Linked DNA regions of Homo sapiens: region 2 is linked to region 1. Evidence: fine-mapped expression QTL. Tissue or cell type: blood mononuclear cells. Region 1 holds a variant in brackets; the other region holds the start of a gene. All regions are shown on one strand. Distances are between the middles of the regions.

Region 1 (2,852 bases):
AAAAATATACACACATGTATATGTATGTGTGTGTGTATATACACACAGGATTTTAAGGACAGTTTTTTGTGTGTGTGTGTGCATGCGCACGCATGCCAAGGAAATTGTTAATCTTCTAGTACATCCCCATAACAGAGGCAGCTACAATAAGATCTAGTCTTTGCCTTACAGACCAGGTGGCTTTACCTGATAGGCTCACAGACATTCAGTAGTTCATTTGTTCCTCAGATTTCTCTAATTATTGTGATAAAGTTGATATTAAATTTACCAACTTAACCATCTTTAAATGTATAGTTTATTGTCATTAAGTGTATTCACATTGTTGTGCAGCCATCATGACCATCCATCTCTAGGAGTTTTTCATCTTCCTGAATGGAATCTCTGTGCCCCAAAACAATAACTACCCATTCTCCACCTTCCACAGCCCCTGGCAGCCACCATTATGCTTTCTGTGTCTTTGAATTTGACTATTCCAAGTTCTTCATTTAAGGAGAATCATAGAGTATTTGTCCTTTTGTGACTGGCTTATTTTACTTAGTGTAATGGCTTCAGGGTTCATCCATGTTGTAGTATGTATGAGAGATGTCTGTTTCCTTTTAAAGGATAAATAATTCCCTTATGTAGATGTATGATATTTTACTTATTCATCTGTGAATGGACAACACTTGGGTTGCATCTACCTTTTGGCTCTCGTGAATAATGTTGATATGAGCATGGGTGTACAAATATCTAGTCTCTACTTTCAGTTCTTTTGGGTATACACCCAGAAGAAGAACTGCTGGATCATATAGTAATTCTATGCTTGATTTTTTTGAGGAGCTGCCATACTGTTTTCCACAATGACTACACCATTAAAGGGATATTTTAAATGAACGAACAAAAAAACCCAGCAGGAAAACCCTCTATTCTTACAGTCTTTGGAATTTTACAATGAACTTTCTAAAATAGGATGAAGATAGCTTCATTGGATTTCTTGTGTAACTAATAATTCTAGGAAGTGTGGTCTCTGTCCTTAGAGGTAAGTGGTGGGCAGATTTAAAATTAATATATCGGTTTCTCTTTGGATAATTACGGAGTTTGGAGACATTAGGGGAATAACAAAGGTGAGTCTAAGTTTTTCCAAAAAAAAAAAAAAAAAAAAAAACAAATACATAGAGCAGAATACAGGTGGGAAGATTCCTATAGAAATGAAAGAGACAGATACAATTATCTCAAATAATCAACTTTGCTTCCTGAAAGTGTCAACTTCGTTCTCTGATCTAGTCTGCCTTCCAGAATGCCTGCATAGTTATTTTCTTAAACATTAGTAATATGATTGTTACTCCTTACCATCTCCTAAAAGATTAAGTCCAAATTCCTTTATATGCTCTACAAGGCCCCTCACAATCTGGCATCAAGCTTTTCTTCATCAC[A/C]TCTTCTTTTCATATATTCTGTATTGCAGCCACACTGAATATCTCACTATTCCCTGAAATTCATGTCCTTCCATATCCTTTGTATATGTCTGGAATGTTCTCTAATTACCTGTACCTGTACCAACTGGTGCACTCCTCACTGTCTTTCAAGACCTGATGTTACTGTCTCTTCCTATATGAAACCTACAAGCAGCTTCCATAGGTAGACACTTTCCTAGTACATTGTTCATACAGTAATAACATTTACTAAAATGCATTGTAATTATCTGTTTGTATATCTATCCATCTTGCTGAACTGAATGTTCCCAGAGGAGAGAAAGTATGTTTATTATATGTCATCATGCAAAGCACAATACCTTGTAGGCATAAATGTCCAAAAAATACCAAATGAACTTATTTTTCTTTATTTATTTTTATTTTTATTTATTTTTTGAGACGGAGTCTCGCTCCATCACCAGGCTGGAGTGCAGTGGCGTGATCTTGGCTCACTGCAACTTCCACCTCTTGGGTTCAAGCGATTCTTGTGGCTCAGCCTCCCGAGTAGCTGGGACTACAGGCACACGCCACTGCACCCAGCTAATTTTTGTATTTTTAGTGGAGATGGGGTTTCACTATGTTGGCCAGGATGGTCTCAATCTCCTGACCTTGTGATCCACCCACCTCGGCCTCCCAAAGTGCTGGGATTAAAGGCCTGAGCCACCGCGCCCAGCCTCGAATGAACTTATTATGTGGTTTTGCTCACTCTATTGAATGTTTACCTTTAATAACCATTACGTGCATAAGCTAGAATTCCTTTCATAATTTCACTATTATTAATATACTGGATATATATGTATTGGATATAGGTAAAATATTAAGCATGCAATTTTTTTCTTCATATTTATATATTGTATTGGATATGTGTTTTGGATATAGGTAAAAATATTAGGCATGCAATTTTTTTCTTCATATTTAATATACTGGATATATGTTTTAGAGATAGGTAAAAACATTAAGCATGCATTTTTTTTCTTCAGTAGTTTGCTGCTGCTCTATGAAGATTTCCAGACACTGATCTCATAGACATTCATACATTACCCCAGAGTCCTCTTATCCTAGGAGAAAGTATCTCATAATCCACACTTAAATGTTAATGACATAATACATTATTACTCCCAGAAGTGTTTGTAGTTTAAAAGTGCTTCCTATGGATGAAAATGCTTAACTCAAAAGAATGAATTAATTTCCAGTGCTAGAATTTTATTCACCTTGTCGCCTGTGTAAACGATAGATTTTAAGGAAATAGGATGATACTCTCTCAACCCTAAAATCACACTGGACAGGCAGGCTTCCAAGAGCACCTCTGAATCTTTAGCATCTCCAGAGTGGTGTTAACAGGGGGAATATATTCTGTTTCCTTAGGCTGCTGCTCTAAGCACTTTGCCCTTTTGGAATAAATTT
Region 2 (2,500 bases), 86 kb before region 1:
TTTAACCAAGTTTAATTTATAGGCTTTCGTGGACTTCTGGAAGTCAACTGACTTCGAAGTTAGGACAGCATGGGGGGATTGGGGGAGTAGCTATGACAATGAGGAGTTTTAAGAGTGAGAAAACACAATGTCTATGAGAACATGGACTTCTCTTTTAGAGGCTCCATGAGCTACTCAGAGAGGAGGTTATGAGGGTTGGTTAAGGTACGAGAGGCACAAAGTGAAAGAAGCCTCCACTACTTCAAACCACATCAGGGCTTTTGGCAAGAGCTACATGAAAAATAGGCTCACAGGCAGCCTGGCGAGGCGGGTCTGGGCTTGCAGGCTGGCGCTAAGGACCGGCAGTTGGGAGACTCTCAGGGACCCGATGGAGGGCCTTGGGCACCACCAGTTTACCGCATGGGTTGGAGAGACAAAAAAAGAGGAGAGCGACAAAAGGGGGAAAATAGGTCCGATGATCAGAGGAGGAAGACGAAGGCTGGCTGGTCATTAGATGCGTCTTGTTTGCCGCCAAAGGGCAGGGGTTACGAGCTGTGCAGCCAGACTGGGTGTTGCAACCCGAGCGCTCCCTCCGCCCGGGGCGTCCATCCTCGCCGGGGGCGAAGCTCTCCACACGCTCTTTGCCCCTTCCTGCGCCTCCTGGCTGCTAGTCAGTCCTGTTAGGGCACTTCTGGAAACCTGCTGTCGACTCGCTGCCTTGGTCCGACTTTGATCGCGGCCTTGATAACTTGGCGCAGCGCCCCGTCTCCTTTCCTCCGGTCCCTCTCCCGCCCACCCGGCCTCACCGGCCACTTCGCCTCAAGCGCTGGAGTCGACCAGAACTCTGCGGCTCGGCTGCCGGCAAGACCCGGATAGCGGATTTCGCTCCTGGCTGCGGGGCGCGCACTCGCCCGCCCGCCCGCTCGCTCGTTCCTCGCGCGGGCACTGGGCATGCGCGGCGCGCGGTTGGCACTGGCTGCGAGCGGGCGGGCGGCTCCAGACTTCACAGGCAGCAGCTAGCGAGGCGGTCTCGCCCGGCGCGAGGCCGGCGCTGTGCTCGCCTCGGAGATCGCTGCTCTTTAGCTGGGTGCAGAAGGCGGCTCCGCGGCTCGCGGACGACTGGCTGGGCGCGAATCAGATTGGGGGGCTTTCTCCCGGTCCCCTCCCACCTCGTCTGGGCTCGCGGCGTCTCCGGGGAAAGCCGTGGCCCCGAGGGCGGATCCGAGGTAAGAGCCCCTTGGCGAAAGGCGCCGGTCCCGGGGTCCGGCGGCTTTGACTTTCTCGATTTTAAAAATCCGCCTTTGTGTGCTGGAATCGGAGCGGTGCCAGGAGCCGCGTCCGCCTCCCTTCACTTTGACTGCTTTCAACTGGTGTTGGCAGCCAGGTGCGGTAGGGCGCTGCGGCCGGAGGCGTCCGCTCGCCGGGTCCGGGCAAGCTGTGGGGCCCGTGCAGACCCGCGCCCAGGGCTCCGGGAGGCTGGGCAGGGAGGGTTCGCCGTGGCCCAGTGATATTCATGGTAACCTGAGCTTCCGCAGATACACCTGCGCTCATCTGGTCCGTGGGGCGACTGCAGACCGAGTATCCCGATCTCGGCTTATTACGTTAGACTTGGGATTTGTGCGCTGCTCTGCCAACCCGCCTCAAATGGGGAGGGGTTCTTTTCAAAATGACCCTTTAGGGCAGGGTCCCACCCCCGTTTACCCCCTCGAATTAACATAGCTAATTGTTTCGGAATCGTTGTCAATGCCTAATGGCTGTTGACTTTCTTAGCTTGCTCCACTTTACTCACCATTTTACTTTTGGGAAGACAGACGGCCTTTCTCCGGTTGTGGTCAGTTCATGCATTTGAAAGGGGTTTCCCCACCCATGTACTCCCTGCCCTCTCCGATGTTCTCACTCTTACTTTCCTTCCTAGGACTACCTGTTTGCAAAATCTTTGCACCGACCGTTCTCCGGCAGTGTTTCTCAAATCCTCCTCCTCCCATAGGGCCCGTAGTACTGTTGGAATCTCGCGGGGGGCAGGACGCCGTGGTTAGGATTTGAAATCCGCAGACATCTAGAGCGGTGAAGGATTAGGAATTAGAATCCTCCTTTACAAAATATGTTTCAGTGAAATGTGTTACTGCTTCTCTTTTCAAGGTTTCTTGCCTTAGATAGTAAGGGGAATAGGTAAAAGAGCTAATATGTTAGGATGAGTTCAGGTAAAACTTGATTTCAGATGTGTGAAGAGTGTGACTTTTTGGCTTTGTCATTTTTGGGAAATAGGAGAGTTAGGATTCCGGGCAATCTTCTTTATATTGAAAAAGCCCCTCAAAGTAACTGTGTTGTGTATTGCCTCTAGTTTATTTTCATTGAAAGGACTCCATTCTTCCACAGCTCCTTGGGTTCTGGAAAGTGAGCACTAGTAATGGACGTCATGTGGTAGTGAGTCTATTGGAATTAAAGTCAATGTCATCCTGTCTCACCTAGTATAGATTTTTTGTTTGGGATCGCAGTTTTCTAAACATATTGCTGTAGTTCT

The links. PIP is the estimated chance that this variant, and not a neighbour inherited with it, causes the effect.
Region 2: EPS8 starts here. The variant in region 1 is fine-mapped to the expression of EPS8 in blood mononuclear cells (TOPMed, PIP above 0.99). The same link has a PIP of 0.9 or more in monocytes and whole blood.

The regions. Positions count from the first base shown.
Region 1 is chr12:15,702,140-15,704,991 of GRCh38, reverse strand. The region is part of intron 1 of EPS8 (EGFR pathway substrate 8, signaling adaptor); the gene reads left to right. Among named protein-coding and RNA genes, the nearest start is that of EPS8, 86 kb to the left of the region's middle. The variant A/C (reference allele first, on the strand shown) is at 1,413.
Region 2 is chr12:15,787,866-15,790,365 of GRCh38, reverse strand. It overlaps EPS8 (EGFR pathway substrate 8, signaling adaptor), which reads left to right and starts at 978. Exons shown (of 21, transcript NM_004447.6): 1 at 978-1,205. RefSeq lists silencers at 771-1,120, 1,381-1,500, 1,831-1,910.